Linked DNA regions of Homo sapiens. The protein of the gene in region 2 purifies or fractionates together with the protein of the main gene of each other region. This does not show direct contact. Each region holds a gene or a part of one and is shown on either strand. Other genes may lie near its edges.

Evidence for each region.
Region 1: the proteins of CSDE1 (region 2) and YBX1 purify together in Homo sapiens (co-immunoprecipitation; 3 studies listed by BioGRID and IntAct, with this or other methods). This does not show direct contact.

What each region holds. Positions count from the first base shown.
Region 1 is NC_000001.11:42,684,406-42,689,277, forward strand, and holds part of YBX1 (Y-box-binding protein 1), read left to right. Parts: intron 1-4,872. UniProt on the Homo sapiens protein: DNA- and RNA-binding protein involved in various processes, such as translational repression, RNA stabilization, mRNA splicing, DNA repair and transcription regulation.
Region 2 is NC_000001.11:114,729,641-114,734,512, reverse strand, and holds part of CSDE1 (cold shock domain-containing protein E1), read left to right. Parts: coding exon 1-71; intron 72-395; coding exon 396-524; intron 525-655; coding exon 656-781; intron 782-1,696; coding exon 1,697-1,909; intron 1,910-3,864; coding exon 3,865-4,005; intron 4,006-4,090; coding exon 4,091-4,255; intron 4,256-4,872. UniProt on the Homo sapiens protein: RNA-binding protein involved in translationally coupled mRNA turnover.

The sequences.
Region 1 (4,872 bases), about 72 Mb from region 2:
TGGTACTTAGTGCCATCTCAGCATTGTCTTGCTTGCTTACTGTAGAAGACCTAAGCAGATGATTAAAAGAACAATGTGGAATGGACAACAAATGGGCAAAATCAAGCTTAAGGACAGAATCATTGCCTGATGAAAAACTGTTCATTAATCAATCATAGAGTATTGTGGAAACACTCAGAGTAAGAGATAAGCATTTGGTGATCTATTCTCTACTTTTGCAATTGTGGGAAAATATTTTGTTTCTTCCAAAATCTTAGGATTTTCCATCTTGTTATATACTGTTTGCTTTCCTGGCTGGCCGAAACTACGTTTTTCATTAATTTTTTGATAATGGCTTACTAGCAAGAAGGAAGGGAATGCTTATATATAATTGGCATACTGATAGCTTTTTAACTGATCTCTCTGAACTTTCTAGTGTTTTAGTTTGTATTTCTGTCTTACTCTGATTATCGTTACTAGTCTAACCCTTAAACCAGTGGTTTTCAAATTTAAGTGTGCTTACCTTGGGAGGGTGTGATGTAAGTGGTGAGTTCCTCCTTCTGAGCCTTGGATTCATTAGGTCTGGGTACATTTTTAACAGGAATGATAATGGTCTTCGGGCCATACCTTCAAAATCACTGCTTTTAACCCTTGACCCAATGTAATGGTAACTCTGGTGTGCAAATTTGCAGCCTTTTCAGCGGATAGATTGCAGGTTTTGTATGTGTTGAAGAAGTTTTAGCATGTGCCTTGTTTCGCTGCATTTTTTTTAAGTAGGCATAGGTTATGACATTTTTTGAAATCAACAGTTTTGTCCAGAATAAGAGTAATATCTTTACATTTTTTAAGTATTTAGTCCATGAGATACTGTTCATTGAATATCTCTATTCTGAATTGGAATCAACTCAATTGGTCATCCTCCAGGGCAAGTTATGAATTGGCTTTTGATGGTCCTTTGTTTGGACTATCCTAACCTCAATTATTTTGTCAAATTAACTGGTTAAAATGTTCTTTATGCTTCTGAACTGGTTTTAATGATTCTGGGACTTTTTTAATAAGATGCTGTAAAATCTGACTCCAATTAAATACAGGGAAGATTTGCTTTAATTAAGGAAAATGTATGTGATAAAAGAAATCACTTTGGAAGCTAGCAGTTGGTTCTATATGTAGTTCGTGTAGTGGAACAAATAGACTTGGCTGGAGGCACCTGTCTCTTATGAGGGAGGGAGACAGACTGACACATAACGTGCTGTTTTCTGTATAAAGGAGAGGGTGCAGTGTTCGGGATGACTATTGTGACGACTTTTAATTGGGGTTTTTGGATGCGCTGGATTATATATGCTAGGATTGTAAGGAATTTTTATAATTACAATATTGTATGTAAATTTTCTGCCTTTAAAGACATAATTTCATTGTAAATGTGTTTATTCCAGCCTGAATTACCACCTGATGAATTGTTACAACCTTGTTAGAATTAATTCATGAAAGGGCTTCTCCCTGATGGTTATATTGTGAAGAAGGTGCTAAGTAACATGAGCATAGAGCTTTTAAAAATAGCAGAAGTTTTGGCTTTATTTTGTTAGACTGTGTAATCTAGAAATTCTAAGAAATTCATTGAGTTATTCTTTTGTGAACTGTGTCTACAAAACATAATCGGAGAATGTGACTAGAGGGGTTTATTAGCTCCCCCCAGATTACTGTTGAATTTTGTTAGTGGTTGAGTATTGATCCATATTCACCAAAGATTACCATGAATTGGCAACAGTTTATAGTGACCAGAATAGGAATATTTTTCTGTTTCCAGAGTACTTAAAATGTTTAAATTAATAATTCTTAATGTTTTGAGGTGAAAGAATTTGGAGCAGAGGTCACAAATTTGTGACCTTCTGGCTAAAACTACTCCCAGATGCTTTGATTAGACAGTACAGTATTTTTTAAAGGAATTGGGATTAATTACTAACATTTATAATTCAGGAGATAACACCAAGTAATCCAGATTATTATATTTTTAAGATCTGAACTTTAGCTGGCTTTGGGGGCCTGTATTTCCACATAAGTAAAAACCACCTGGCCATATTGTCACCACATTTAGGTGGGGTATACTTTTTTTACGACAGCCTTCACGCCTGGCCTCTGTGTATGCATTTGAGTTTATTACCCATGGTCTAGGAAGATGTAATAAACCAAGCCAGGGAAAGGTTTGGCTATCTCTCTTTAGTCACGCCTATCAGGTTTAGTCTCCCTTTGGGGTGGGGGCTCCCTTGTGGGGATTCCATATGTACATAACTGATAGGTGACTTCCAACACATGTTGGTGAAAATAGATACAGCTAACAAGTATTTATACTAGGGTCTATAGTAAGTGCTTAAAATGAGCCAATTTACTTAATCTTTAAAAACCTTTGAGGCGTAGGTACTGTCATTCTGAGGCACAAAGGAGTTGTTACTTGTCCCCATAAGCATAGGTGATAAGTGGCAGGATTGGAACTGTTTTTTGACTCTGGAGTTAGTGTTCACCAACTGCTCTTATGCTGTCTCTGAAATAGACCCTAGCCATTTTCAATTTGGTTGTTGTCCACATAGTTACAGATAATTTCTTAGGGTGATTATTTTTAGCCGTTGAAAGACTCTTAAATGATCCAAGTATGTCACTGGGGCTCTTGTCTGCTGACTTGCTAGGTCCTGGATTTGAAAAGTTTTCTGCCTTTCACTATCTACTTTGTGAAGTTTGGGATTGTTAAAAGTTCTAGTTTAGCATGTAGGTCAGCTATACAAATAAAAGGACTTGCTTAATTCCTGATACTGGGAGGTGAAGAATTAAAGGAGAGAATGTTGCACCTTATCTCCCTTAATCTTTTTTTTTTGTATGGCCTGCAAGGTAAGACTGAATATTGCCTTTTTAAAGGGTGATTTTTCTTGAGATGGAGTTTCACTCTTGTCACCCAGGCTGGAGTGCAATGGCACGATCTTGGCTCACTGCAACTCCGCCTCCCAGGTTCAAGCGATTCTCCTGCCTCAGCCTCCCGAGTAGCTGGGATTACAGGCGCCCGCCACCACACAGGCTAATTTTGTATTTTTAGTGGAAACAGGGTTTCTCCATGTTGGCCAGGCTGGTCTCAAGCTCCTGACCTCAGGTGATCCACCCGCCTAGGCCTCCCAAAGTGCTGGGATTACAGGTGTGAGCCACTGCGCCCGGCCTCTAAAGGGTGATTTTTTTTTCTTTTTTAAAGGTGGCGGTGTAAAGTACTTACTGTGTGGTTGTTGGTTGTTTGAAGTGGAGTCTCTCTGTGTTGCCCATATGGGTCTTGCACTCCTGGGCTCAAGTGATCTTCCAGCTTCAGCCTCCCAAATGTGTGGTTCTTAATAGAAGTGTAAACCTTTGGAAGGATGTCATTACCAAAAATCTCTTGGGCTGTTAAAGTCACACTGATCTTAACTTGATCACAGTAGATCCATTGCTAAGCCACATAAGTCATGGGTAGACCGTAACATAACTGACAAAATGTTTTGGCACTAGGGAAGGTTTAAAGACTTTTCTGCAGGTGCTGCTAAGGGAGAGATGTCGAAGGTTCCAAACTGGAACCCTAAAGACAAACATCAATGACATGTATGCAGGAGACATTAGGAGAGATTTGTATGCTGGTTATATTAACCATTGATCTTAAGCTGGCAAGAAGTCATCCGTGTTCACCAAGTCACTGATACGTGACTTGGAGAATACTAGTAGGTCCCACTCCCTGTGTCCTCCCAAAGTACAATCCTTTACTCTTGAAATCTAGGATAGAGAACTAGTATCCAGTTTGACTCGTGAACAATGTGAGTTTGAACCACACAAGTCCACTTACACACAGATTTTTTTTGATAAATATATTGGAAAAATGTTTGGAGATTTGCAACAACCTGAAAACTTCAGATGAACCACATAGCCAAGAAGTATCCCCCAAAATAAGGAAAAGTTGAGTATGTTGTAGATACTAGTCTGTTTTATTATTTACTACCATAAAATGTACACAAATGCATTAGAAAGTTAATACAGCCATTTGCAGTTGAGAAATGTAAACAAACATAAAGATTCAGGCAGCATTAAATCATAACTGCACGACATTCACTGTAGTAATATTGTACTATTATAATATGTAGCCACTGCCTATTGCTACTGCAGTGAGCCCCTTAAAATGCCATGTGACGCTAATCATCTTCACATGAACAGTTTATCTCTCCAGTAAATTGCATGTCAGTAAAAAGAACTTGTAGTACACAGGTATTGTGGTTTAGTGCAATACTGTAAGTCTTCAATAGCACCATGGGACCCATGCAAAGTGGCGCTAGTGATGCTGAGAAAAGTCATGGCATTGTAAGAAAAAGTTCAGTTGCTCGATATGTGCTATAGATGAGGTCTACAGCTGGAATTACCTTTCAGACAGATGTACACTTACCGTATCGATAAGTGCAGTACTGTACATGTATTTTCTCTTACAACTTTCTTAGCATTTTCTTTTCTGTAGCTTTATTGCAAGAATACAGTATATAATACATATAAGACAGAAAATGTGTTAAGGATTTATGTTACCAGTAAGGCTTTCCAGTCACGAGTAAGCCATTAAATTTTGGAAGAGTCAAAAGTTACAGGCAGATTTCAACTGTGCAGCAGGTTGGCACCTCAAACTTCTATCCACCCTCATAGATACTGAGTTATTCAAGGATACACTGTATTACCTTCCTGTCCCCCTAGTCCTGGGGCTGCAGTTGCTGAGTTTGCTACCCTCCAGTCTTAGCCCTTGGAAACATACAGTTTGTCCGAAGGCAGAATCATAGACAATATGTGGGAAACAGAAGTGAGTCTGTTGGGTGTGAAGGGTGTTTAATAGAGAAGAAATACAAAGATAAGTGGACA
Region 2 (4,872 bases):
TAAGTGCTCGCAACATTATGCTGTTGAAAAAGAAACAAGCCCGCTGTCAGGGAGTAGTTTGTGCCATGAAGGTAAGTGTTAAATTTGAGAAACTTGAGTTTTCTTTGGCCACTTGAAATGTTGTACTTCAAACTCCAGCCTTTGTTTTTTTTTTTCTTTTTTATCTTACCCTTTTAAAATATTTCACTGTTAACCTCAAAAGTAGTCTCTTAAAATTCCTTGGTTGCTAATACATTATCTTCTTTAAAATTGGCTGTTTAATTGATAATATTAGGTTGTACCAAATTATATTATTGTGACTACAGTATAATTTTACAAAAATTACTGGTTTTAAGTTGTAATCATAAATTTGTACAGAGTGGTAATAATGTTCTTGGTTTTTTATTTTGCTTCAGGAGGCATTTGGCTTTATTGAAAGAGGTGATGTTGTAAAAGAGATATTCTTTCACTATAGTGAATTTAAGGGTGACTTAGAAACCTTACAGCCTGGCGATGATGTGGAATTCACAATCAAGGACAGAAATGTAAGACAGTCAGTTAACTTGATCTTTGGCCTTTTAAGATCAGAGTTGGTTTATGTTTTTAAGAAACACTTAAAATTATGTGATTCTTCCTTCCTCTGTCCCCCCACCACCTCCAACCCCTTCTGATTTAGGGTAAAGAAGTTGCAACAGATGTCAGACTATTGCCTCAAGGAACAGTCATTTTTGAAGATATCAGCATTGAACATTTTGAAGGAACTGTAACCAAAGTTATCCCAAAAGTACCCAGTAAAAACCAGGTAAATAATCTTTTTCAGGAGAGTCCTATTTCGCCTCAGTAGTAATAGAATAATATGGTGTGGTATACTGAGATTTTATCTTATTCAGTTAATATAATGTGGTAGTGGAACAACTAAGGACCTCTTGTTACGTATATTTAAACTAAAAGAGAAACCAGATTTATATATTCATAAATATGGTGTTTTTTTTTTTTTTTTTCTTTTTTTGTGACAGAGTCTCGCTCTGTCGCCAGGCTGGAGTGCAGTGGCGCGATCTCGGCTCACTGCAACCTCCGCCTCCCGGGTTTAAGCGATTCTCCTGCCTCAGCCTCCCAAGTAGCTGGGACTACAAGGGCATGCCACCACACCCAGCTAATTTTTGTATTCTTAGTAAAGACGGGGTTTCACCCTGTTGGCAAGGATGGTCTCGATCTCTTGACCTTGCGATCTGTCCACCTTGGCCTCCCAAAGTGCTGGGATTACAAGTATGAGCCACCTCGCCCAGCCAAATATGTATTTTTTTTTACTGGGTGATGAAAAAAGGCCAAAGAAGAAAATGCTAATTAAATTGGAAAGCACCTGATTGGATTAGACTGCAGTTCAGGTGTACATTTGTTCCCTCCTCTGCCCCTGCCCTACCCCTCCAGTTTGTGGGGAAGGTGAGGACACAAGTGGTGTCATTCCTGGAAAAATTCCTTAAATAAAATCTTTTGGTACCAGAGTGCTGGGTCTTAATTGCATTGTTGTAATTTTATGGTTGACTCGTGTGACCATAGACCATGAAGCTTTCACATTGGACTTATGTTGTCAACACCTTTTTTCGCTTCAGGGAACTAAGTTAAAAATAACATGGGTTTACTATGTGTTCTTCTTGTTTGACTTAGAACTAGGAAGGATGAGAAATCTCCAGCTAAAATCGTTTTTCCTTCTCATCAGAATGACCCATTGCCAGGACGCATCAAAGTTGACTTTGTGATCCCTAAAGAACTTCCCTTTGGAGACAAAGATACGAAATCCAAGGTGACCCTGCTGGAAGGTGACCATGTTAGGTTTAATATTTCAACAGACCGACGTGACAAATTAGAGCGAGCAACCAATATAGAAGTTCTGTCAAATACATTTCAGTTCACTAATGAAGCCCGAGAAATGGTAAGTGTTGGATATTACTGGATATGTATCTAATATGCGAAAGCCAATGTTATATTCAAGTTTATACTACTAAATTAAAATTTTTCTTAAGTTAAATGACCCTAATGGGCATTTACCTTGTTAAGGTGATTAAGAATCATACACATTTGAGTCAGTCTGGGTTATCTCTGGCAGTTATCTTGGAAATATATGTGAAAAAATTTTTTGAATGGAAATCTGGACAGGATTACTAAGATATTTTTAGAGTCAGTGATTCTCAGGCCCTTAATATGAAGAGTAAGAAAATTCAAGTTCATCATTGTAGAAAGTAGATTTTCCCAAACTATTTCCTAAGACATTTAATTAGTGGTTTCTGTTTTTAGGAAACACAATTCTTCCTCCAGTGTGGTCCAGGGAAGCCAAAAGATTGAACACCCATGATCTAGACACTAGATCACACATAAAATACACTAACAGCAATGATAGCTGATGAGCTTTTTTAAAAAAAAAATCATAGGCACGGTGGCTCACACCTGTAATCCCAGCACTTTGGGAGGCTGAGGCGGGTGATCACTTGAGGTCAGGAGTTCAAGACCAGCCTGGCCAACATGGTAAAACCCCGTCTCTACTAAAAATAGAAAAATTAGCCAGGTGTGACGGTGGGCACCTGTAATCCTAACTACTCAGGAGGCTGAGACAGGAGAATCGCTTGAACCTAGGAGGCAGAGGTTGCAGTAAGCCAATACCATGCCGTTGCCCTGCAACCTGGGTGACAGAGGAAGACTGTCTCAAAAAAATAATTGCAAAAACATCTCATCATGTTTTAAGAAGGTTTAACAATTTGTTGTGTTGGGCCACATTCAGAGCTGTCCTAGGCCATGGTTTGGACAAGCTTGCAATTAAACCAGAGTCAAAAAGGTTTTGTTTTGGCAGAACTTCACAAATTGTTTTTTAAGAGTTTGTGTCTGGGAGTGGCATAAACCAACCAGATTTTTTCCCAAACATGTTTTATGAACTCATTTTCTCAGACATAATTTGCATTTAGTTACGTTTGGGATCATATCATCTACACTATAACTCAGTGTTGCCAGTGGAACTGGGTACATTGAATGAAAATTTAAGTTTCTTGAGTTTTTTTTAATCCTTTGCCTTTGAAGAACTGGTTGTATTTGACACAGTGTATTTAACTTTAAAAGTTTGTAAGTCTGAATGTGTGATTTTTTTTTTTTTTTTTACATTTTCAAAGGCAAGATCTGTTTTGCTTTACGGTATGGAAAATATAACTTGGCTACTGTCAGGACTTGGCAAGGATTAAATGTCAAAATATTGTTTAGGTCATATTTAAAACTTACAGAATCACTTCTGCAGTGAGCAGATATGTAGTATGTAATACAATAGCAGATTGATAATTTGTGTTCATTGTTTCATTAAACATGAGTATCTACCATGTTCCAGGTACTCTTGATACAGTAAGCCTTACAAAGCTGATAATTTAGTAAGAAGGAAAAAAAAAAAAGAGAAAAGATTGCATATATTTTATTCTTCAGATGTAAATTTTAACTCTTTCCTGGGCCTAAACTCATGCAATTTTTGAGGTAGAGACTGGAGAAGTGCCTTTGTCTACTTTGGAATTATGGTCTGTAAATTAGTGAAGTTTCTGGAGATTATATTGTCATTAGACTTGGGCTTTTATGAAATACATTGTGTTCACGTGTTTACGTTCACATGTGGTAATTTTTTCTAGTGCATATTTGCCAGGAAGTAGCAATTGGAGAGTCTTAGAAAATTGCTCAGGTTAAGTTACTTTGTTGAAAGCAATGAGTTTGTACTTAAGTGAGAACAGTTCAAATGTGGATACAGTATTTGTGTCACATCAGAGAAAATTCCTGATGAATTTAACTTGATGGTGGTTGTAAAGTTGAATGTTGCCTTCTTGACAAGTTTCACAGCCAGTGAAAATATTATTTGGGTTTCAGGGTGTGATTGCTGCCATGAGAGATGGTTTTGGTTTCATCAAGTGTGTGGATCGTGATGTTCGTATGTTCTTCCACTTCAGTGAAATTCTGGATGGGAACCAGCTCCATATTGCAGATGAAGTAGAGTTTACTGTGGTTCCTGTGAGTTGTTTCTGAGAAAAGTTGGGAGGTGTTTCTTGATGCTTTCTTTTTCAATTGAAAGTTAATTTTGTTTTATCATTTTTAGGATATGCTCTCTGCTCAAAGAAATCATGCTATTAGGATTAAAAAACTTCCCAAGGGCACGGTTTCATTTCATTCCCATTCAGATCACCGTTTTCTGGGCACGGTAGAAAAAGAAGCCACTTTTTCCAATCCTAAAACCACTAGCCCAAATAAAGGCAAAGAGAAGGTAGGTTTTGCATAATCCAAATGATTTTTGTAGCTGTTTATTTCTCTTCTGCTTTAACAGCACATAGTAATAGAGTACATATAATCAGCGGAAGTTTGTCTCTTTCAGAATTTCTGTCATATTAACAGTGAACTAAACAAAGTAAGGTTTCTTAACCTTGGGATTATTGACATTTTGGGATGAATGATTCTTTACTGTGGGGGATGGGATGTTTAGCAGCATTTCTGGCCTCTACCCACTGGAAGTTAGTATTCTGACCCCTTTTCCCTGCCTCCCATTGTGACAGCCAAAAATGTGTCCAGACATTGCCAAATGTCCCCTGGGAGGCAAACTCATTCCAAGTAGAGAACTAGTTATATAAAATGATAGTACTGTCTTCCAGGCAATTTAAAACTTTCAAAGTTGGGTGTATCCTCAGTTCACACATTTAAATTTCATTTATTGAAAAATCCACTAAATAGGAAATAGAAAGATGTCTGAGATGAATTCTCCTTTCAAGTTAATAACAAATTGAGAGTTTTATAGAAACAAGTAATTCATATAGAATATAAAATATTGCTATTGAAGGTCAGCGATAGTGCTCTGGTGAAAATTAACTGGTAGGGTATGTGATGGTT